Homo sapiens: one gene and its partners. The protein of the gene in region 2 purifies or fractionates together with the protein of the main gene of each other region. This does not show direct contact. Each region holds a gene or a part of one and is shown on either strand. Other genes may lie near its edges.

Region 1 (3,500 bases), on a different chromosome or scaffold from region 2:
AAGCTTAGCAGCTCACTGATTCTCAGAGTCATCATGCAGCTGGCCAACTACACACAAGCCACCCTGCCTTCTCACCCTTTCACTGAAGGTAAGGGCTGAGATATCACCCTTATTTACTGGAATTTAGGAAAAGCCATTGGAATTGTTAGAATTACTACAGCTCTGGTCAAAGTCCCACACTTGCCAAAATTTAGAAATGGCTTAAATACTACCACCGAAAAAAGTGATTTTTTTTTCTCCAACATGACATGACAAGTTTGCCAGCCTTGCATTTCATTTAACCTCCACAGTCTATGCTCCATCTAGACCAAACAAGCTGCTTTCAAGTCCTTGGACTCACTGAAGCCTTTGTTCATCTGGTTGTCTTGGCCTTATGAGGGAAGAGAATACGCTTTTCCTATTTTTCTACCTATTCGAATCCTAAATATCTTTTAAGGCTGAAATTAACTATTACTTTCTTCAGGTAGGCTGCCCTAACGCTCATTAGAAAAAATTCCCTCATTGGCCAGGTGCAGTGGCTCACATCCGTAATCCCAGTACTTTGGGAGGCCAAGGTGGGCAGACTGCATGAGTCCAGGAGTTCGAGACCAGCCTGAGCAACATGGTGAAACCCTGTCTCTACAAAAATTTTTAAAAATTAGCCAAGTGTGGTGGTGCACACCTGTAGTCCCAGCCATTCAGGAGGCTTAAGTGGGAGGATCACCTGAGCCTGGGAAGTGGAGGTTGCAGTGAGCCAAGATGGAGACATTGTATTCCAGCCTGGGTGACAGAGTGAGACTCTATCTCAAAAAAAAAAAAAAAGAAAAAGAAAAAGAAAAAGAACAGTCCTTCCTCCAAGTGCCCAACGCATATTACCTGTAATTATTTTACAGGATCTAATCCTTTGTTTTATTGTTCTTACCTGCTTGCTTTCCCCACTACACTAAGAATTTTGAGGGCAAGGTCTTACCCATCTTGGTGTTCCCCAAATCACTTAGTACAGTGTTTTCAACATATAAATACTCATAAATATATTGTGTAGGGATGTGGTTCAGCTGGTAAGAACAGCACAGTCTGGGCCTATCTGGTAGATATAGAGACCAATTTGCCCACAGTAGGAGCACACAATTATTCTTGGAAAGGCTAATAATGTTATATTCTTTTTTTCTTTTCTTTTCTTTTTTTTTTTTTTTTTTTTTTTGAGACAGGGTCTCAATTGGTCACTTGGACTGGAGTGTGGTGGCACAATCTTGGCTCACTGCAACCTCTGCCTCCTGGGCTCAAGCGGTCAATCCTCCCACCTCAGTCTCCTGAGTAGTTGGGACCACAGGCACGCACCACCACACCTGCCTAATATTTGTATTTTTGGTAGAGACAGGGTTTTGCTATGTTACCCAGGCTCAAACTCCTGGACTCAAGCAATCCGCCTGCCTCTCAAAGTACTGGGATTACAGGCATGAGCCACCATGCCCGGCCTATTCTATTTTTTGTGATCAGAAACTTTCCCATGCAAGGTGGGAAGGGGCATCTGGAGACAGTTCTGCAAGGGAATACAGACCGCACTCTTCAAGGACATTACCACCATTACGTAGGTCATGTGTACAATAACCATGTGACATTTTCAGGGGATATCAAAACAACTCTTTAACCCCTGAGAAATAAAGCAAGAAATGGCCGGACGCAGTGGCTCATGCCTGTAATCCCAGCACTCTGGGAGGCCGAGGTGGGCGGATCATGAGGTCAGGAGATTGAGACCCTCCTGGCTAACAAGGTGAAACCCCGTCTCTACTAAAAATACAAAAATTAGCTGGACGTGGTGGCGGATGCCTGTAGTCCCACCTACTCAGGAGGCTGAGGCAGGAGAATGGCGTGAACCTGGGAGGCGGAGCTTGCAGTGAGCCGAGATTGCGCCACTGCACTCCAGCTTGGACAGAAGAGTGAGATTCCGTCTCAAAAAAAATAAATAAATAAAATAAATAAATAAATAAATAAATAAAGCAAGGAATAAGGTAGTACAGTAACATCAAAGAAGAAGCTTTGAGCCTCTGAATCCTGGAACATTCTTTTGGGTAAGGACTAGATAATATACCAAATTCAAGACTACACTTTGATTTTTAAAAGAGTTGATGTCTGCAGTCTGAACATTTCATAATTATAAATCTTTCTGTCAAAGCAACTCTGAGTACATATTTCACTTTACTGAAAAAGAACTATGAGAAGCACAAAAACATGCCATTCTTGCTTCTAGGTATGTGAAAAACCATTATTTTGTAAGTTATTTCTCTTAAAACTTTGTTTAAACAAAGAGATTATTGCATAGTAATTTTGTATACTATTCTTAATTGTGATATTTCAACATAAAAATGGAGCTATCATCTTTGGAGATTTCCAAGTCAGATGGCATGATAAAAATAAGAAAGCAATACAAATGCCTCCCCTTCAAAGTCACCTAAAGCACACCAAAACTATAAATATTTAAGGCTTGAAGCAGTGGCTCACATCTGTAATCCCAGCACTTTGGGAAGTCAAGGCAGGAAGATCGCTTGAGGCCAGGAGTTTGAGACCAGCCTGGGCAACAAAGCGAGACCCTGTCTCTACAAAAAACAAATAAAATAAAAAATTAAAACCTATAATTATTTTAAGATAAGTTATAAACCAGTTTGATCTCATTTTAATAAGTAAATAAATCTTCTATTTAAAAAGAGGTGAGGTGAGTTAGAAACAGGGAAGGGATCTGAAGAAGAATATTAAGACTATTCATCCTAAGTACTAACTGAATGCTTTTCATTTTCTTTTTTGCTTAATCTGTATTTATTTCCATGAATATATATTACATTTTTATTCGATGGCTTTTTGGAAAAAGTAGACATATATCATAAATCTGTGTGTGTATGTGTGTGTGTTGTGTGTGCTGGTAATAAAAGTTTCTGAAACAAAATAAACTGACTATATAAAGGTATCCAATTTCGGCTATTTGAAGGGCCTGAATTAGTTTAGGTATGTCCATTTAGAATTGCCAAATATCTATACTATTCAGAAATTGCTCTTTGAGTTTTTCCTCTATTAGAAAATACCCACCTAAATACCCAATGATACATGCCAAAGGCTTCCTAGTGCTTTTGCTTTTCAGTGGACTTCCAGATAGTTCAGCATGTCTGTCTGCATCTGAGGAGAGAAAGAAACATGGAGATAACCAATGAAATGGATTTCTCTAGCCAGACTACATGCACCACAGAAATAAAGGTACAAGTGGAAAACAGTACAAAATAGCCACCAGATTCCCGCATAATTTCCTTTTGGGTTTGAGAAAATGGTTTCTAGTTCTGGTTCCCAATTTCTAAATGGGATTTACATAAAATAACATGTAATTATTAGTAGTAGTATTATTTTGAGACGGAGGCTCACTCTGTCACCCAGGCTGAAGTACAATAGCGTGCTCTCAGCTCACTGCAACCTCCACCTCCTGGGTTCAAGCAATTCTCCTGCCTCAGCCTCCTGAGTATCTGGGATTACAGGTGCAC
Region 2 (3,500 bases):
AGAGACACACAACTCCGCCCCACCCCAACCTTTAGGTATACTGAGACACACAGAGATTGCCCCCTCCCCACCACAGAAATTTCTATGAAGAAACTCTTTCAGGTATAAAAGGATCTTCAACATAATTTCAGCTGCTGTTCATTTTCTAGTTGAGGAAACTGAAGACGAGAGAAAGCAAGTGGCTTGTTGAAGATCACAGGGAGGGGCCAGAGCTACAACCAGAACCCAGGCTTCTGACTCCCGGTCCAAGGCTGTCAGCCCATTGCACTGCTGAGCCGCCTTCTGCACTGTAAACAGACCACACAGGCACTTCCCTACCAGGGACACCCACATCTATGACAGGAATAGACTGAGGAGAGACAGGTCCAACAGAGACACACACCCACCCACCCCCTGACAGCCTCAGAGATACACACACATTCTGCTAAGCACTCCCTACCACATCCAAACAACCACATCCATAGAGCCACTCAGCCCACTGGATTCACCAAAGCTTGCTCCTGGATTCTTACTGGGAAGCAGCCTCCCACGTCTTGGGCTGGGGTGAGGGGAATGGGCCATTGGAGTCCAGCCTTACTCCCTGCTTCCAGGCTGGGATTGAGACCAATGAGCAGAAGCGTGGGTGAGGGTGGGGGCAGGGTGGGGTGGGCTGGTGGCAGACAGATAGATGCATTGGTGAGGGGCCAATTAGGACAGATCACACCACCCAAACCTCAGCCTGTCTGTAAGGCCCACCTTACCCTGCCCCACTCCCAGAGTGCAAGGAAGCGGGTGAATGGGGCAAGAGGAGGAAGAAGGCAGTGATCCGATGGGTGAGGGGCACTACCCGGTTGGGCAGCTTTGCCAGGCTTCCCATCTGAGGAGGGGGAAATGCAAATAGAAACATGGGCCGGTAGGGGGCGTGTGAAGGGGGCTCCGAGGTGCTGGGACCCGTCCCCACTGCCCTGGGCCTTTCTCCCTCCGAGCCCCTTTCCTGGTTAGGCTGAGGCCGGGGCTTGGGAGTTCATGGCTTCGCTGGGGTGGGGCCAAGCCCCTGGCTTTGTGATCCCCCCACTCGTTAATGTTGACCTCCCTGCCGTCCAGTCTTCTCTCTTGGCCAGCCCTGGGAAGCGGGGCAGGGTGCTGGGTGAGGTTCCCCCAGGTAACTGAACAAACGGCCCCCACCCCTCCTCAGCTCCCGGGTGGAGAGAGACCCAGTTTTGGTTTCTCCAGCTCCATGAACACACAGAGGTACACGTCCTACCATAGGAGGAAGCAATGACTGTTATACGAGGTTGGCGGCTGTAGGGGCGCGGGGCCGGGGGCAGGCAGACGAGCTGGGAAGGGGTCGGCCTCTGCCCGTCCTACCCGGCCCTTGGCGGCCCCGCCCCGGCGACCGCAGTGGCCCCGCCCGCTACTGAATGTGGCAGGCGGTGGAGGACGTGGCCTGGCAGCACATGCACGTGGGGTTCACGGACTTGGGGGGGATGAGGTCTAGGTCCTCGTCGTCGGGGATCTCATCTAACCGGTAGCCGTCCTTCAGCAGCTGGATGTTCAAATCTTGGTTGATCTGCTGTAGGCAAAGGGGAGGGAGGTCAGGCCCGAGCGGCAGGGAGGCACCACCCACAGCTCTGCGGCCACTCCAGGCCGTCTGCGCCCCAGTCCAGCCAGTGCCCTGGATATCAGCCCCGCCCTGTCCCGGGTCTGTCTGTACCCCCAGGCCCCGCTCCTGCCTAGGCGCCCTCCTTCGCCTCTGGCCTCTCTTTCTAGTCACCCCTCCCCATTCTATGGTCAACTTCACACCTCTGGTCCTGCTCCTATTCGGGTTTTGCCCCTATCTCAGGCCGGCTACTAGAGGATATCACCTGTATTTTACACCCATTCTATTTAAATGGCCTGCTGCAATCTAAAGCCCCACTCCTAACCCTGGGCTCCATGCACTTGAGGCCAGTAACCACTTCTCTTCCATCCTATCCCAGGCCCACCCTGTGCAGGGCACCACCCAGCCTTGCCCAGCCCTCTTTTTCCTTGTACTTGGGCATTGGCCCCAGCCCTCCCCCGGGATGGCAGTGATCCTGCCCGGTGGTGTCTAGGGTGAGAAGGGGTAGGGGCTCACCTCAGCAGAGGAGTAGCCGGAGGAGGAGTATCTAGACATGTCAAAGTCATCATCGCTGGCCATGGAGGAAAGAGAGGGAAAGTGATACCAAGAAATTACATAGAAAACTCTCTGCAATCCCACCTCCCATTAGGCAGCATCCTATACCTCCCTTACAGTTCCAAATAGCAAAATCTCAATACGAACTGTGCTTGCTGTGCAAATGCAGGATTTTAAAGACAAGTTCCCTAGCCCCACCCTTAAAATCAATTGCTATCCTTAACCTCCTTCTAAATATAGCAGTTACTCCTTTCACCCCCTTCTCATCTTTTTTTTTTTTTTTGTAGACTCAAATCACCCTGACTTGTAGGATATTCCCAAAGTCCAAGTCTAGCCAGGTGTTTTCCAGGGAGTAGGGCTCCTTCCTGAGGGGATGGGGCATTAAGCATCATATTCTGCTGTCCAGAGACAACATCACAGGCCAATTAGGGACAACCATTGGATCAGTTGTCCCAGGATGACAGCAGACAACGCAGGCCCCCCTTTCCTCTCTCTGCCACCTCTCTTCAACCCCCAGTCCCTGGTGTAAAAAAATTCCCATCCCTGGAGAATTCACCCTTGGAGAGATTCTGGCTGAAGAATATCCCAATTCTGACAATATAGCAGGTGTGGCCTGTACAGCCCACTTGTGCTATACAGGTTCCTTTGGGCTGCCCAGCTACCCCCAAGCCCCCATACACACCTGTCCGTGTCAAGGGCTACCAGTGGCTTCTCATCAGGGCTCTGGTCAAGTGAGGAGTAGCCTTTATTGGGGACGACCAGCCTAGGTGAAGAATTTCGGGAGTTAGAGTGGCAAAGTGGAGCATAGAAACCTGGCAAGGGACTGGGTTGGGCCCCGTCCCACCACTTTCTTCCCTCCCTCCCCACCTTGGATCCTGTTAAGGCTGTCTCCTCTCAGAGAGGAGCTGGGCCTGAGGAGGGAGGGAAGAGGGGGAGGCTCAGGACCAGCAGAAATAGGTCCTGGCTGGCAGGGTCCAGGTGGGGTAGGGAGGGCCTCTACCTTGTTCGGGCCATGACATTGTTCTTCTTGGGTTGCTGGTTGACAGGGCTACCCATGCTGCCATTCTTCAGGGAGCCCTTCCGGGCCAGCTCCCGCTGCTTCTCTGCAGGAGAACATGGGAAGGAAGCTGTGTCCTGCCCCTGAGGCCACCCTGTCTTACTACTCAGGGCAGCCTGGGCTGGGCCTCCACTGTGAAACCACTTGCTCCTAGAAGGACTGAGGCAGGGATCCCAACTCCAGGCCCCTGCTGCTTGGTGGAGATAGTACCTGGCCCTGCACAACCTGAGGCAGACAGTGGGGGGCAAAAAGAGGAGGCTGCCCCCTGTTTTTCAGGAACCACAACTCCCATGTTAGGGTAGTTAGTGT
Region 3 (3,500 bases), on a different chromosome or scaffold from region 2:
TGATACAGATATTCACAGGAAATTTATAGTGAATATACTTACTTTAAAATACTACTCCACACTATCAAGATCAACAAATTAAAGTTTTGCTTCTACTTGGAAATAGCAAAATCATGCTAAAAAAAAACACCAATAAATATTTTTGCCCAAGTATTTATCCTGAAAAATTTAAAAGACATGGATATATGTATTTCTACTAAGCACAATATTTCAGAAACATACTAGTATACCATGTAGACTTTCTAAAGTATTTGTTGCACGTTGACAGTATAGCATAACTTCTTAAAATAAAAATGAAAAGGTTTTCAGGAATTTACAGAATATTTTTTTATTGTGAGCAAGAAATATTTTCTACAATAAGAGAAAGCTTATCATATAACACATCAATAAAGTCTAAATGAATCCTGTTTCAGAACTGTTTCGCCAATTACATGAGAGAAGAAGAAATCATTAGAAATTGCAACATTCTCATTTATTTTTATTTAATGAGATCAAATCATAAGACAGTGTCAAAGTTTCATATTTTCTACTGGTTAATCTGAAGACACAATGAAAAGCCATTCAGTCTTTAGTAGTATTAAGGATGAATAATTTCTGAGTTAGCCTCCTTCCATTTTTAAGACAATATTTCTCACAAGAGAAGTTTAGCTAAACAATAAGGGCCTTTTATCATTTTTGAAATTAATAGCCAAAGTTACTATTTTCACTTCTTCAATGATTTTCACTTCTACTAATTTTACCTAAGTACTCAAATAAATTTGAGTTCTATGTTCTTGAAGAATGTGCTAATTATATGCAAGCCAAAAACAAAAAAACAAAAAAAAAACAAACCAACCCTCCAACAATATATAAGCAACATTTACCTGCTTTTTCTTGAACAGCAACTGTTCCTTTCCCCATAGCTGATGTCATAGGTTGTGGTAGAACTGTGGCAATGGACGTGGCAGGTGCTTCTCTGACAATTCCGGAATTCTGAACTCCTCCACTAGCAGCATTCACATTAACACTTCGTTTGTTCACTGTTGTGGGCTTATTTGAACAGCCTTTATTTAAACTTGACTGAAATGTAATGGAATATTTAAAAGCTCAGGTTACTAATGTTTCATACTATACATTAATATTTTATAAATTCCCTGTTAGATTAAAAAATATATTTTTTTCCTTGCAAATCTTAAGCTTGCTGGCAGACCTGAGTTTCCCTCTAAATTAAAATGTCTTTTAAAATACTTTTAAAAAGAGAGATATATAAGGAGAAAAAAAAAAGAAAAAAAGTTTTAAAACTAAATATCAAATGGCTTTGTACTAAAATTATTATACATTACATGTAAAATCATTATGTAATTATGAAACAAAACTATACTGTTTAATTGACCACATATAATTTCCATATTCTGAGTTAGATTTATTTAATAAAATAAAAAATGCTGAAAAGAAAATGTCTCACCTTAGTAAGAACAGTGGAGTACTGAAATGCTATACACTGCACAGATGTCTTGTGAGCACTGATGGTCTTAACTGGTGATTTCAACATTCTTAAATCATATTGATATATTTTCCCCCGGGAAGATCCAATAGCCAAAGTGGCTCCATCAGGCATGAAATCTACCGCAGTTAGAGGAGTGTCAGCCACTAAAGTTTTCACTAGCCTTTGGAAAGGAGAACAAAGTATGTGTAGAAATGTTAGTGTGTACAGGTATATTAGCTTATATAAGTAACTATATACCAAAACCAGAGTTATTAACACTTCAAACTGGTCAAAGAGCACACATATCCCAAATATTTGTTTAAAGCATAATTTCAGAATTTGACTTAGAGACATTTCTAATAAAATGGCATATAGAGAACTGCTAAACATTCCATCTTACTTTTCTATTCACTTCCAATAGGTACATTCTGCATCTTATAGAAGCAGCACCTATTTCTTTAATTATTACTCTGACAGTGAATGTAGCAGAACTGTCTATTACGCCACAAACAGGGGCTCTGGCCTCATGGTTGAGGAGGGCCTAAGTATCCACTTTCCATTTATTGACCTGCTTAGGCCTCATGAGGACTATGACCTTTCACAGGGGAGCAGCTGTTACTTTGTTCTTAGTTGTACAGTCTTGGCCAAAAAGCTAAGAGGAACACAGTTCACATGCTTGATCCTTAGGAAGCTAATAAAGAAATACGGATGGTGATCTGCTGAAGCTGAGCTCTTTACTGGTGTGTATAGTAGAAAAGAAGAATGGCTTACTGGGCTCTCAGTAAATTGTTCCATAAAAGAAGACAGCAAATAAGTCCTAACAGTAAAAATTCTAGCATCATAATAAAGGCTGACAGTGGGACCTTCCCTTGTAGTAACATTCATACTCCACATGATCTACAGACAGTGGTAAGCATCTTGAATACAACTGTATCACTCTTGCATTCTTTTGTTTTTGTTTTTGTTTTTTAGCTAACTAAGCATACCTAAATTTAACAAGAAGAGGGTACAGTGGGCCCAAATGCTTAGAGGATTATGTACACCAGTACATAATCAGTATTTCTCAAGTGGGTGCTCCCAGGTTGTCCCTGGTTACTACCAGGGGACATCTGACAATGTCTGGACACAATTTAGGCCATTGGTATTTAGTAAGCAGAGGCCAGGGATGCTGATGAATATCCTACAATACCCAGGACAGCCCCTCACAACAAAGAATTACCCAGCCCAAAATGTCAATCGTTTCTAAACCTTCCTCTAGATAATTAATCAGTTTTAAAGCAAATTAATCATTTGGGTTAAAAACATATGCATTTTATCATATTGTGGAAAAGATGCTAAAATTAAAATGTGAAATCATTAAGATGTCATCTCTCTATGTTCATGTTTCAGAAGTACCCTAAATACTACCTGCAACCCATCTATTTCTTTCTGCATAAGAAGAAAATTCTTTCTTACTAGATCCATCAACTGTACAAACTTTAGGACCCCTGGACACTAATCAGAGGTCTATATAAATCACAAATATGCCTGTTAATGGAATAATAGCTATTTGTTACTAAATTAAGAAATAAGCATGTCACACTTACTTCTTACTTGAAGTGTCATAGAGGATGATTCTTTTATCCAAGCCTATGGTTACAAAGAGCAATTCATTGACAGGAGAAAAACAGATGCCTGACGCTGGAGCTTTGTGTACACTGTCAAAGTTATGGTATGGACTCTGACTATTTACATCCCAGAGAGTTACTATTCCATTATCCGAAACACTGCCCAGTAGTGATTTCTTAAACAAGGAGTACTTCAAGTGCCGAACAGACTATAAAAATGAAAGAATAAATTTTATGTAATTATAAGCATTCATAAGGACATTTGATATAAGCCATATAAATTATGGCCAACCACACTATTCACATGGGGTTTAGGATTTCTCTGATGTGTAAGAGTGACAGGTTTCAGCCAGACGTGGTGGCTCACGCCTGTAATCCCAGCACTTTGGGAGGCCGAGGCAGGTGGATCATCTGAGGTCAGGCGTTCA
Region 4 (3,108 bases), on a different chromosome or scaffold from region 2:
GGAATTGTAACTAATATTTAAATCACTTGGAAATAGGATTCATTTTATCACCAACCTACCAGGACCCTCTTTACTGTAAAGAGATAAAACACTAGTAAATGTATTGCATAAATATACCACAGACTATTATGAACAATTAAAGCACACTTTATATTTTTTAAAATTTCTCTGTAAACGTTCTAAGATAAATTATATTTGAATTTGATAAAGTCCTATTTTGAATCCCTTTGGGTTATAAAAGTCTATTCCCTAATTTATCTTGTGAAAATCCAGACTTCTGGCTTAAAATGGGATTTACTTTACTCTCTGAGAAAGGAATCCACCGTACTTTGATTTAGATAACCACATGGTCTGGAACTCCATTTAGTGAAAATTAAATTTTATGACTCATATAGCCAATGTTTTACCTCTGTTTTCTACATATTCACAGCAGGTGAAATGTGTTCAGGAATTTAAAGATGAAAACATATGTCTTTTAAGTAATGACCACCAAGAGCCACTGCAGATAGAAACAGCTTTATTTTTTCCATTCAGGCTTTATCAAATAGCTTGTTCAAAAAGCATATACAAGAGCAAAAAATACCACATGCAGTCAAACTTCTTTTGCCTTATAGTCATTGGCTTTCTTTTAGAAAAGAGTGTGCACTTGAATAACTTCTAATTCAAACATTTTCCAACTGTTTCTACTTCATTTTTCAAGTTAGCAACGACAGATACATTTTAGTTAACTGTTTCATATTCCTTATCTTTATTCATACTGAAATAATATAAAGCCTATAAAATCAAAGCATATACTGTTCAGAAATCTGGAAAGGTTCTTTTACATAATAGATTCTGACACGTTAAGAAACTACACACAACAAATATTTGCAAAATGAATGAAAAATAGGATAAAGCTATTTAAAAGTCAACATAGTAATATTTATCTAAATAATTTTAATCAAATGTACAACATATTTATCTGATATCATCTATCTTTTAGAATACAAAAAAGTGCTCAGATTACATTTAAAAAAATAACAAAAATCTCTTAGAATGGAAATAATTTAAATAAGGACGGTAGCAAGGGGAATTGAAATTACATCTTTGCTCCCAAAACAGGAAGGCAGGTGTGATGTATTTGAAAATCAGAAAGGGACACAACACTAAGATTGCAAATGCAAAGCTTCCTGCCTTGGAAAGATATAAACTGTCTTTGAAAAGTCCTTGTGTCTTTCTTTACAGAAAGTTACGAACATAAAATCAGATCTCTCAGCTAGACTGCTGGTCAAGTAACAAGGTGGGTCACTTTTCTTGACTATGCTTTTCTAGTCCACTATCAGTATTCACTCAGCTGGGGCTCAAAAGGACAAATAGGTGTCCTTTTAAGACACTTTGACTACTTGGATCAATACACTAGCTATTCTCAAACCAACATAATGCATGAATACAGCAGCCAAGTAGAAGGATCTCCAATGCTCAAGTCACTCTGAGTCTTTGCTGGTGTCAACCTACAATGCCACCCTCAAGGAAAGCACAGTGGTTCACAGACAGGGATGATTCATCATTTTCCTCTGAAAATGAATTCTGCAGGAAGAAACCAGAGTTGTGGTAAGATGTTGGAGTCAAGTTTTCTCTTCATCTGATATTCAAGGGTTGTGATCTTTATGAATACCATTTTACATGCTAATCACAAAGACAAATGGAGGGAAGATACAGTGATAACACCAAGTTGGACATTCAAATGCTAAGCGAGCCAAGTACCAGCCCTACCCTGCTTATTTTTAATAATGCAGAGATTACTTACTACACTTTCTGAAGCCTTATTTTGAAATTTATTTCACATTTCAGACATGTCCATAATTTACTGTTGAGGAAATAAAACAGCATGTAGAACATAATTCTATTTATATTAAAATTACATAGGTATGTGTGTATACATACATGACAGTTCTTTTCTCCTTCTGAGTATGGTAGGGTTGTAGATGATTTTTACTTTTTATTTATACTTCTTAATGTTCTAACTGCTTACAGTGTCACTTTTGTTATAATCATAAAATGAAGCTCTTTTCATTTTAGAGGAAAAAGAGAAAAAAGGCTCTATAGATTCTGAAGGCAGTTCCAAGTAAGTCTCTCAAATGCTCTTACGAGACTACTTTGCAGGTCAAAATCCCAGAAAAATGTAAAATCTTGTGATCAGAGAAAATGGCTTTGCTCACTACTCTAGCTCGGTTAGCAGAGTACGCAGCACCTTGGCAGGTGTGACACACACACTCTGAATGAAGAAATGCGGCTGACTTGGATGTTGAGTTTCTAGAGATTTCAGTTTTAAAATCATTGTTTTATGATCCTTTTTATTCTAGTTAGCTGAGGATATTTTCAAATTTTTGTCAAAATTCAGTACATTTTAGAGGAAAGTTTAAAATTAGCAACAGGATTCAAACTACCATGTTTTATAACATGGCTTTTAAGAAACGATGAACCAAAACAGAAAAATGGGCAAAGTGGGGACTAAAAACGGCTTGCTGGCCAAATAGCTGGTAGCAGAAGAGGGGATCAGCTGACAAAGAGGGCACAAGAAAATAACCCTCCTGTTTTTCATCCTGTTTCCCAGACAGCTCGACTATAGCTAAGAAGGGACATGTCTGACTGTCCTCCTGTACCCAGCACAGTGCCTGCCACCTTGACAGGTGGGCAAAGGACTCAGCAAAAGAAAGTGAGGGAAGGAGGGGGCTGGCCTCTGCTCTGAGTTACTAAGGGTGGCAGAAGCCACCCTGACTGTGACTCTCAAATCAAAGGACAAGAAATGGATTGTTCTAGCTCTTGTCCTGGAACAGAGGTCGGAATGATTCCTTCTTCAATGTGATTTGTGGCATAACTATGAAAGTAATCACATACTAATTTCCATTAATAACCAAAGACAAATGTCCTGAGTTGTAAGATAAAAAACTAGTGACTATTTATTTCCTTTGGATGAGACTTAGATCAAGGCAGGAACCAACATTTTTCTTTAAAAAAATTCAATTTCTTACATTTTTAGAAGTAAAGCAAATAATATAACTAGAGTAATTATGTATTTTATTGTCCAAACTGGGATATTTTTTAGAGTAAAAGGGAGTACTATATTCT
Region 5 (3,500 bases), on a different chromosome or scaffold from region 2:
AGCTTAGTCAAAAACAAAGCAAAACCAAGCCTGGGGCTGGAGGGGGCAGCAAGGAAGGGAAAGTCTCCGTGAGGATACCCTGGCCTCCGTCACCTGGGCCAACCCTTATCCTCATCACGCAATGGTGGCAGGAGCATGGCTCTCTATGCCCAGGCCCCACCAGCGCCCCCATGCCTGTCTGCTGAACCAGTGTGACAGGAAGGACTATGGCGGCCGAGCGCAGCTGAGACAGAACTCATGCAGCTCCGCACAGGGAATCAGGGTGCAGGACAGGCTCCCTCAGGGCAGAGTGGGATGTGGAGCCCACACCCCCGCAGCCTACCTGGAGATGGGCATGGCCAGCCACTCCCCCATCGCCACCCACGGTACTCACAAAATCTTGCTGAATGTCCGTGAAATCCTTCCCATATTTTTCCAGGGCTTCCTCGAAAAGGTTGGCCTCTGATGCAGACCACTCCTCCATCTCGTCCCTGCAGAGCACGGGCCCGCCCTGCGGCACCAGCGCCGAGATGGCCTTGGAGATGTCGTAGATGTTCTTGTGGAGAGTATCCATGGCGTGGAACTGCGGCAGGAGACAGCAGGGTCACCCGGGCCAAGGTGGCTTTTCCTGCACCTGTGGCACGGTACCCCCTCCCTCAGTACCTCAAGGATCCCCTACTGCAGGCCCAGCAGCACAACCCTCCCTGCACCCTCAGCACAGTCTGGCCGAGTTTGGGGTGGATAGGAAAGGCCAGTCCAGGTGGGACAGCACCTCTGCAGGGGTCCTGAATACCTGGGGCAGGTGCTGGGCCCTGGTAGGAAGAAGGGCGCAGCCACTCTGGGCCATGGGCCACCCCAGGTCTCACCTGTCCCGCCCTGGGCCCACTTACCAGGGTGATGTCTCGGGAGGCAGCTGCGGCGCTCATGTGCAGGCTGGGCTGTCGGACGGAGCTGCTGCAGTCCAGGGCCCGTGCGAAGGTGCCCACAGAGCTGGGGAAAGGAGATGCGCTGACCACAGTGTCGGCCAAGCAGGGACTCCCCACAGGCACACCGCTCCCCAGGCGCCAGGGACCAGCGGCCACGGGCAGCACGGACTCCCCCAAGGCACACCACTCCCCAGGTGCCAGGGACCAGGGGCCATGGGCAGCACGGACTTCCCCCAGGCACACCACTCCCCAGGTGCCAGGGACCAGGGGCCATGGGCAGCACGGACTTCCCCCAGGCACACAGCTCCCCAGGTGCCAGGGACCAGGGGCCATGGGCAGCACGGACTTCCCCCACGCACACCGCTCCCCAGGTGCCAGGGACCAGGGGCCATGGGCAGCACGGACTTCCCCCAGGCACACAGCTCCCCAGGTGCCAGGGACCAGGGGCCATGGGCAGCACGGACTTCCCCCAGGCACACAGCTCCCCAGGCGCCAGGGACCAGGGGCCACGGGCAGCACGGACTCCCCCCAGGCACACAGCTCCCCAGGCGCCAGGGACCAGGGGCCATGGGCAGCACGGACTCCCCCCAGGCACACAGCTCCCCAGGGACCAGGGACCAGGGGCCACGGGCAGCACGGACTCCCCCCAGGCACACAGCTCCCCAGGGACCAGGGACCAGGGGCCATGGGCAGCACGGACTGCCCCCAGGCACACAGCTCCCCAGGCGCCAGGGACCAGGGGCCATGGGCAGCACGGACTCCCCCCAGGCACACAGCTCCCCAGGGACCAGGGACCAGGGGCCACGGGCAGCGCGGACTCCCCCCAGGCACACAGCTCCCCAGGTGCCAGGGACCAGGGGCCATGGGCAGCACGGACTGCCCCCAGGCACACAGCTCCCCAGGCGCCAGGGACCAGGGGCCACGGGCAGCACGGACTCCCCCCAGGCACACAGCTCCCCAGGGACCAGGGACCAGGGGCCATGGGCAGCACGGACTCCCCCCAGGCACACAGCTCCCCAGGCGCCAGGGACCAGGGGCCATGGGCAGCACGGACTCCCCCCAGGCACACAGCTCCCCAGGGACCAGGGACCAGGGGCCACGGGCAGCACGGACTCCCCCCAGGCACACAGCTCCCCAGGGACCAGGGACCAGGGGCCATGGGCAGCACGGACTGCCCCCAGGCACACAGCTCCCCAGGCGCCAGGGACCAGGGGCCATGGGCAGCACGGACTCCCCCCAGGCACACAGCTCCCTAGGGACCAGGGACCAGGGGCCACGGGCAGCGCGGACTCCCCCCAGGCACACAGCTCCCCAGGTGCCAGGGACCAGGGGCCATGGGCAGCACGGACTCCCCCCAGGCACACAGCTCCCCAGGGACCAGGGACCAGGGGCCACGGGCAGCGCGGACTCCCCCCAGGCACACAGCTCCCCAGGCGCCAGGGACCAGGGACAGACTGCATGAGCATCGCAGGGAGCAGCCCGCAGGTGGCGAGGACTCCTCGTGTCCTGGGCCCCAGGCTGCGGAGTAGGGCCCGGCACCCACCCCAGAACCCGTGTGCGTCTAACTGAGGGCATCCCGATAGATTGGCAGCCGCCTTGGGGCTTCTTTTGGGGTTTTCTCCACCTCCCAGGCTGCTGGCAGGGAAGGTGCATGGTCCTCTCCTGGGCCTCGGCCTTCGCCCTGCCCCAGGGGTCTGCCCGGGCTGCAGCTGCTCTGCTCCATGACCAGGCCCAGCCCACTTGCTCCCAGTGGCCCAGGAGTGGGAAAGCACCTCTGGCCCATCCTGGGAAAGCCCCATTAGGGACACATGGGCAGGCACACAGGCCTGCCCCCCAGAAGGGCCGCCCTTCTATTTAATGAAGGGCCTGGACCCAGCACTCCCGAGCCTCTCTGGGAACTGCTACCGGGGGTCTCAGGGCTGCAGCGCATGGGCTTCTTGTTGGGATATGGGATCCAAGACTGTCACGTCCCCAACACCCACCACAGGGAAGGGAGAACAGAAGCTCCAGGCACCACCCCTGCTGGCCTTGCCCAGGAGCAGGACTCACCGGGCCACCACCAGGAACTGGTCGATCTGCTTGTCTGTGAGTGGGTTGTGCGCCTCCCACACCTGGGTCTCCAACCTGGACTGGTCTCGGCCATCCTCCTCGCCTACAGGGAGGAAGTGTGGCCTTTCTGAGACGGGGTCCCACGGCGCGCCGGGCCGCGCCTCTCCTCCCCGGGTGCGGGGAGCTGCTGGGACGGGGAGGGGGAAGGGCTGCAGGGCCCCATAGGTGAGGCCAGGGTGCAAGGCTGGACGGAGGCTGTTGCACACACAGGCACACAGTGGCCTCTCAACCCGGGGCTGGGGTGCACACGCAAGGGGCCTCCCAGCCCACCCAGAATGCAGGGCTCCAAGAACTGTGGCCACAAGAGATGGGAAGGTTGGTTTGTAAATTTAAATCAAGCCTTTTTATTTATTTATTTATATTATTATTATTATTATTATTATTTTTTGAGACGGAGTCTCACTCTGTCGCCCAGGCTGGAATACAGTGGTACGATCTTGGCTCACTACAACCTCCGCCTCCCAGGTTCAAGCGATTCTCCTGCCT
Region 6 (3,197 bases), on a different chromosome or scaffold from region 2:
GGCCGCCTTGTAGGCCCCCTCGGATCCCACCAGCTCCTGGGCAGAGCACCAAAGCACCGACGGTGGCAGGCTGAACACCTTCCGGGATGAGGGAGACGCCAGTGAGGCCCGGGACACGGGCAGGTGCCCCCCACAGACAGCCCCACCTTCCGGGATGCGGGAGACGGCAGTGAGGCTGGGGCACGGGCAGGTGCCTCCCACCCCCCACCGACAGCCCCGCCTTCTGGGATGAGGGAGAGGCCAGTGAGGCTGGGACACGGGCAGGTGCCCCCCAGGGGTCACCTCCGGGACCCCTTTCCAGGGACAGCCCTCCCACCTCCTCTAAGGCCACCACATGCCATGGGAACCCAGTTGCTTGCAGAATGGGCTTCACTTCGGCCAGGGTCTTTGATCTCTCCTCTAGGCTCTGGCCACAGGCTGCTCCCTCTGAAAAACCCAGGCAGAAAGAGTCAGGGCTCAGAGAGGAGCCAGGCAGGGCAGGCTGCAGGGCCACCTCCACCTGGGAAAACCCTTCGAGGCCTCGCTCCGCAGGGCGGTGCTTCCTGGCGGAGCTGTGGGGTGTCGGCCATTTTCCTTTGGGCAGGGGTTTCTCTCTTGCGGCTGACCTCAGCGCTACAGTCAACACCCCAGGAGTTCGTTCTGCAGGAGCAAGGGTCGGGGAGTCGGCCCCTGGGCCCCCGCTCACCATCAGCACTTAACTTGCCCTTCTTTGTCCCCAGACCCCGTGATGGGGGCTGGGCAGCCGCCACTCCTGCTCCCACCCCCGACTTTCTAAGGATGTTCTTAGATTCCAGGAACAGTGATGCCACCTAACGATGGATACATCTGCTGCCTCCTTCAGGGAGATGTCCCCACCAGGCCCTCAGTGCAGGGGCAGCACCAGTAGCTCAACACATCCTACCAGAGGGAGGACCGGCACCAGAGGGAGGGTCCACACCAGAGGGAGGATCCGCAGGGCTTACCCCAAGTGGCCAGGGACTAGGAGGAGCAATGGCCCCACATACCGTCAACAAAGATGACTCCTGCCACAAAGCGCAGTCTTTTGGCAGAATCTTGGCTCAGGCCCTAGAGGGAGAAGCAGCAGGGACTCAGCCCCCAGCCATAAGCCACAGGACACTTTTCCAGCTCAGAACATTCTTCATCTGGATTTAATGCCATCTTGGAAGGTGAAGTGGTCTTCCCCTGCCATTGCGTTTATTGGACAAAGCCATTCAGACTCAGGTGCCGGGCAGGCCCAGTAGGCGAGGCCGCACGCCCGACTTATTTTAAAGGGTAGCCTGGGGGTCTTCATCCCCCTGGTAAAACATGCCCCTCACCAGCTGGTCCTGGATGTCCCAACAACGCCCCAGGAGAGGGGGCTGGGTTACGGGGCCACTGTGCCACCATCCCACACGCTTCTGACCACTAAGGAAGCACTTGCTCTCACAAGCAGAAACCAACAGCCTGCAAGAGGCAGGGGCGCCGCTGGGCACAGGAAGGGCAGCACCAGCGTTACACAGAGGGCTGGGCCAGTTCCCTCACAACACCCTCCTGGCAGGTTCAGGGGACCTCAGAAAACAGAAAACTAATTTCAGCAGTGTTGTGCCATGCGCCCATCCTGAGACCAACACCCCACTCCTCAACCCGGCAAAGCCGACCCCTCTCCTCTCAACCACCCAGCCCACAGAAACAGCCTCCTCCGGTCTGCACCTCTCATGAGAGTGCAGAGAAACCAAGCACATCCCGCTCCTGTGCCCTCCTGAGAAGCCCGACCTGCCTCAGACTTCCTGAGCTGACCCTTGACAGGCCACGGGCACAGCCCCACCACCCCCAGCCGAGCCCTGTGTGCAGCCTAAGCCCGCCTCCACCTCCCTGCGCGGGCCGCCGCCTCCACCTCAAACGCTGCTCCCTTTGCTTCTCCTGGCAAACCCCCGCCCCTTTCCCAATCTTCCCTCGGGTCACACATGGCTGAGCCAAGATGCAGCTTTCCACTGACTGTGTTTCTACGCAGGTTGAGCAAATGGACAGAAGTCAAGTGGGCCGCACACACGCACTCTGGACCCAGCTTCTGATTGGTGCACCTGCTGTAAACACATCTGAGAGTGGGCCGCACACACGCACTGTGGACCCAGCTTCTGATTTGTGCACCTGCTGTAAACACATCTGAGAGTGGGCCGCACACACGCGCTGTGGACCCAGCTTCTGATTTGTGCACCTGCTGTAAACACATCTGAGAGTGGGCCGCACACACACACTGTGGACTCAGCTCCTGATTGGTGCACCTGTTGTGAACACATCTGAGAACCCCCCAAGTGTCCAGGCCGCAGGGTGGACTGCTCTCTAGCCCCAACCAAGAGCCCCTCAGCAGGCTGAGAAGGGAGGCCCCCAGCCTGAAGCTCAGCCCAGCAGCCCGGGCCCACGGGGTGGTGAACACGCACCTCAAGAACCTGCCAGACCATGGAGCTGGACGAAGGCCCCCCAGACCACGCCAAGAGCACCTGGGGGAGAAAAAACATCACTCAGGGCACCGCACCTCCAACACAGGCAGACACCCCACCTCGTGGACATCTAGGACATCGAGTCTGTCCTCAAAGGCCAAGGAGGAGCTGGCGGGCTGCAGCAGGCCAGGCTGCCTGTGGGAGGGACAAGCAGGGACCTCGAGGGGCCAGGCTGCTCAGTCAGACCCCCAGGACCCAGACGCTACCTTCTCGCCTGGAAAGATGAGCCGGTTCTTGCCCAGCATGGCTCTGAACTTGTGGACGTAGAAGGCCTTGAAACAGTCCCTGCAACACAGACCTGAGATGAGGGAACCGCCTGCTACCCGCACAGTGAGCAGCGTCCTGAGGCGCTGCCAGGTGACGACGTCCTTTGCCAATCTCCATCTTTAAAAGCAGCATCTTCACATCCAGGCTCTGTCCAGAGACTGGTGAAAGGGGCGGGGTTGGCCCCTCTGGCAGTGGCTTCCTCAGGGTGAACACGAGGCTCACCGGCCCCTCCCACGACCAGGTACAAACTGCACAGCCACGGAGGCTGCATCCAGCAAACGAGGGCAGAGCCCCGGCACCCCTCCCCACAGGCGCTCAGAAGGGCCCAGCTGGTGGAGTGGACAGACTTAGGCACGTACAGGGCAAGGCCAACCCAGACCCCATAAAAAAAGACCCACCACATACAGACACCACCTCTTGGAGGTGAAACGTGGAAATGGAGCGGGCCACAGC
Region 7 (3,500 bases), on a different chromosome or scaffold from region 2:
CCCAGGCTGGAGTGCAATGGCGTGATCGCGGCTCACCGCAACCTCTGCCTCCCAGGTTCAAGCAATTCTCTTGCCTCAGCCTCCCGAGAAGCTGGGATTACAGCCACACGCCACCACACCCGGCTAATTTTGTATTTTTAGTAGAGATGGGGTTTCTCCATGTTGGTCAGGCTGGTCTCGAACTCCCGACCTCAGGTGATTCACCTGCCTCGGCTTCCCAAAGTGCTGGGATTACAGGCGTGAGCCTCCGGGCCCGTTCAGGCAGTTCTTTATAGCAGTGCGAAAACAGACTAATACAGACCTCAATCTCATACTACATGTAAAAATAAATTCCAGATGGACAAAAGACCTAAGTGTACAATGAAAAACCTTAAATCTTTCAGTAGAAAACATATAAGCATTTTTTTAAACCAAGGTGAAGAAGATTTCTTTAACAAGATACAAATAATACAAACTGTAGAAGAAAAACTACATTTTTAATTTAAAATCGTTTACAACAAAATTATATATTTCAAGGTAAAAAGACAAGACACAAACTAGAAGATGAAATTAAGTATTTATACAACAAAGGATCAGCATCTAGAGTATGTACAGCATTCTTAAAACTCAGTAAAACAGAAAAACAAAACAGGCAAATAATATGAACCAGCAGTTCACCAAGAAAGAAGCCCAAATGGCCCCAAAACATATGAAAAGATGTTCAACTTTACTAGTCAAGAAAATATAAATTTTAAAAAGATGTTTGTATCCAACAGATTGGTAAAATATTATAAATTTATATATATAACACCAAGTGTCTTTTGGTTTTTTTTTTTTTAAGTTCTGAATTACATGTGCAGGATGTACAGGTTACATAGGTAAATGGTTGCTGTGGTGGTTTGCTGCACCTATCAACTCATCAACTAGGTATGAAGCCCAGCATGCATTAGCTATTTTTTCTGATGCTCTCCCTCTCCCTGCCCCCGACCCAACAGGCCCCTGTGTGTGTTGTTCCCTTCGTGGTGTCCATGTGTTCTCATTAACACCAAGTTTCAATAAGCAGAAAAACAAGACCTCAAATTCCTGGTGGGGCCAGGCGTGGTAGCCCATGCCTGTAATTCCAGCACTCTGGGAGGCTGAGGCGGGAAGATCACCGGAGGTCAGGAGTTCGAGACCAGCCTGGCCAATATGGTGAAACCCCCATCTCTACTAAAAATATGAAAATTAGCTAGGCATGGTGGCGGCCGCCTGTAATCCCAGCTACTCAGGCGGCTGAGGCAGGAGAATTGCTTGAACTCAGGAGGCGGAGGTTGCAGTGAGCCGAGATCGCACCATTGCACTCCAGCCTGAGTCTGATGGGGACAGAGCGAGTTTCCATCTCAAAAAAAAAAAAAAAAAAAAAAAAAATATATATATATATATATATATATAGAGAGAGAGAGAGAGAGAGAGAGAGAGAGAGAGAGAGAGAGAGAGAGAGACAGTGCACACAGGAATTTCAGGAAAATGGTTAACGTCTGGAGAGGAAAAGAGAAAGGGAAAGGTGGGTTGACCTTTCTTTGGTTTTTTGACTAAAAGCAACTCTAGAGCAAACATGGCAAAAGGTTAATATCTATTCATCTCAATGGTAAGTACAAAGGTATCTGTTATACTACTTTTGTACTTTTCTGTAAATTCAAATTGTTTCATAATTGAAAATAGTTTTAACTGAGTTTTATAATGATTTAAAAATTAGGCCACGCACGGTGGCTCACGCCTGTAATCCCAGCACTTTGGGAGGCCAAGGCAGGTGGATTGCCTGAGGTCAGGAGTTCCAGACCAGCCTGACCAATATGGTGAAACCCCACCTCTACTAAAAATACAAAAATTAGCTGGGCATGGTGGCATGCACCTGTAGTCCCTGCTACTAGGGAGGCTGAGACAGGAGAACCGCTTGAACTCAGGAGGCAGAGGTTGCAGTGAGCCGAGATCATGCAACTGCACTCCAGCCTGGCAACAGAGTGAGACTCCATATCAAAACAAACAAACAAACAAAATATGAATATTTTAGGTGTAGTATTGGTATTGTGGTTTTGGGGGAGTTGTTTGTTTTTTGCTTTCTTTTCAAGAGATGAGGTCACTTCATGTTGCTGAGGCTGGAGTGCAGTGACTATTCCCAGGTGTGATCATAATCCACTGCAGCCTCTTACTCCCAGCCTCAAGCAATACTCCCAACTCAGCCTCGGGAGTAGCTGGGACTACAGGTGCGAGCCACCATACCTGACATTATTTTTTAATTGTGGTAAAATATAAATAACATAAAATTTACCATTTAAAACATCTTAAGTGTACAGTTTTAGTGGCATTAAGTACATTCACATTGTTTTGCAACCATCACAACCATCGATCTCAAGGACTTTTTCATCTTCCCAAACTGAAACTCTGTACCTGTTAAAAAAATAACTCCCCAATCTCCCCTTCCCTTGGCCTCTGATAATCACTATTCTACTTTCTGTCTGTATGAATTTGACTATTCCGGGCACTTCATATAGACCGAAGCATACAAGCATTTGTTCTTTTGTGCTGGGCCTATTTCATTTGGCATAAGGTCTTCAAGGTTTATCTACATTGTAACATTCTAATGTGTCAGAATTTTATTACTTTTTAAGGTTAAATATTCCATTGTACGTATATTCCACATATTGCTTACCCATTCATCTGCTGATGGACATTTGAGTTATGTTTTAGAGTTCACATCTCTTTACTGAGATGCATACTCAAATATTTTTAAATTAAATTATAAGGTATCTGATATTTGCTTCAAAATAGTCCTGGCTGGGACGAAAAAGCAGTGGGACAGGGAGATAACAGATGAAATGGGATATAACTTTTCACTTATGAGAGCAGCAAAGATCAGAAACACTGATACCACCATATATACTGCCAGAATATGGGGAAACAAATTGTTTCATACATTGTTGGCAGGAATGTAAATTAATTTCTTTGGAGGGTTCTATCAAAGTTGAATTTGCAAATTTCCTTCAACCAAGATATAACTTCTAGGAATGTATCCTCATACATAAGCTCACACACATATGAACAAGTGTATACAAGAATACTGACTGCAACAATGTTTACAACAGCCCAAGTCTGGAAACAATTTAAATGTCTATCAGTAGGGACTGACCGCAAAAATCATAGTACATTACAAAAACATGGAAATACAATGAAATACTATTTAACTTTAAAAATGAAGCAGTTCTACTTTTGAGATAGTATCCATAAATATGTTAAGGGGAAAAAAGCAAGCTACTGAAGAGAGTAACACTATTCAACCAGACATTCACGTGGTTCAATTTCTGGCTACCACAGATCAGAAAACCTAAAAACCTCCCACAACACAGGCCAGGCACCACACTGTGGCTCACGCCTATAATCCCAGCTCTTTGGGAGGCTGAGGCAGGTAGACTGCTTGAAGCCAGGAGTTCAAGACCAGCCTGGCCAACATGGTGAAATACCATCTCTACAAAAAATACAAAAAG

What was found.
Region 1: the proteins of FAM219A (region 2) and MTA3 purify together in Homo sapiens (affinity purification with mass spectrometry; 3 studies listed by BioGRID and IntAct, with this or other methods). This does not show direct contact.
Region 3: the proteins of FAM219A (region 2) and NEDD1 purify together in Homo sapiens (co-immunoprecipitation; one large-scale study listed by IntAct). This does not show direct contact.
Region 4: the proteins of FAM219A (region 2) and ATE1 purify together in Homo sapiens (affinity purification with mass spectrometry; 3 studies listed by BioGRID and IntAct, with this or other methods). This does not show direct contact.
Region 5: the proteins of FAM219A (region 2) and MTA1 purify together in Homo sapiens (affinity purification with mass spectrometry; 3 studies listed by BioGRID and IntAct, with this or other methods). This does not show direct contact.
Region 6: the proteins of FAM219A (region 2) and CTU2 purify together in Homo sapiens (affinity purification with mass spectrometry, with the first as the bait; one large-scale study listed by BioGRID). This does not show direct contact.
Region 7: the proteins of FAM219A (region 2) and UBR3 purify together in Homo sapiens (affinity purification with mass spectrometry; 3 studies listed by BioGRID and IntAct, with this or other methods). This does not show direct contact.

Annotation. Positions count from the first base shown.
Region 1 is NC_000002.12:42,718,632-42,722,131, reverse strand, and holds part of MTA3 (metastasis-associated protein MTA3), read right to left. Parts: intron 3,145-3,500; coding exon 3,058-3,144; intron 1-3,057. UniProt on the Homo sapiens protein: Acts as a component of the histone deacetylase NuRD complex which participates in the remodeling of chromatin.
Region 2 is NC_000009.12:34,399,571-34,403,070, forward strand, and holds part of FAM219A (protein FAM219A), read right to left. Parts: intron 3,238-3,500; coding exon 3,135-3,237; intron 2,898-3,134; coding exon 2,817-2,897; intron 2,151-2,816; coding exon 2,096-2,150; intron 1,553-2,095; coding exon 1,394-1,552; 3' UTR 1-1,393.
Region 3 is NC_000012.12:96,934,757-96,938,256, reverse strand, and holds part of NEDD1 (protein NEDD1), read right to left. Parts: intron 3,282-3,500; coding exon 3,052-3,281; intron 1,647-3,051; coding exon 1,445-1,646; intron 1,060-1,444; coding exon 864-1,059; intron 1-863. UniProt on the Homo sapiens protein: Required for mitosis progression. Promotes the nucleation of microtubules from the spindle.
Region 4 is NC_000010.11:121,739,924-121,743,031, forward strand, and holds the end of ATE1 (arginyl-tRNA--protein transferase 1), read right to left. Parts: 3' UTR 501-3,108; downstream 1-500. UniProt on the Homo sapiens protein: Involved in the post-translational conjugation of arginine to the N-terminal aspartate or glutamate of a protein. This arginylation is required for degradation of the protein via the ubiquitin pathway. Does not arginylate cysteine residues.
Region 5 is NC_000014.9:105,457,827-105,461,326, reverse strand, and holds part of MTA1 (metastasis-associated protein MTA1), read right to left. Parts: intron 3,058-3,500; coding exon 2,955-3,057; intron 970-2,954; coding exon 870-969; intron 563-869; coding exon 374-562; intron 1-373. UniProt on the Homo sapiens protein: Transcriptional coregulator which can act as both a transcriptional corepressor and coactivator. Acts as a component of the histone deacetylase NuRD complex which participates in the remodeling of chromatin.
Region 6 is NC_000016.10:88,709,503-88,712,699, reverse strand, and holds part of CTU2 (cytoplasmic tRNA 2-thiolation protein 2), read right to left. Parts: intron 2,763-3,197; coding exon 2,684-2,762; intron 2,478-2,683; coding exon 2,418-2,477; intron 1,066-2,417; coding exon 1,005-1,065; intron 640-1,004; coding exon of another isoform or gene 427-639; coding exon 317-426; intron 79-316; coding exon 1-78. UniProt on the Homo sapiens protein: Plays a central role in 2-thiolation of mcm(5)S(2)U at tRNA wobble positions of tRNA(Lys), tRNA(Glu) and tRNA(Gln). May act by forming a heterodimer with CTU1/ATPBD3 that ligates sulfur from thiocarboxylated URM1 onto the uridine of tRNAs at wobble position.
Region 7 is NC_000002.12:169,833,954-169,837,453, reverse strand, and holds part of UBR3 (E3 ubiquitin-protein ligase UBR3), read right to left. Parts: intron 1-3,500. UniProt on the Homo sapiens protein: E3 ubiquitin-protein ligase which is a component of the N-end rule pathway. Does not bind to proteins bearing specific N-terminal residues that are destabilizing according to the N-end rule, leading to their ubiquitination and subsequent degradation.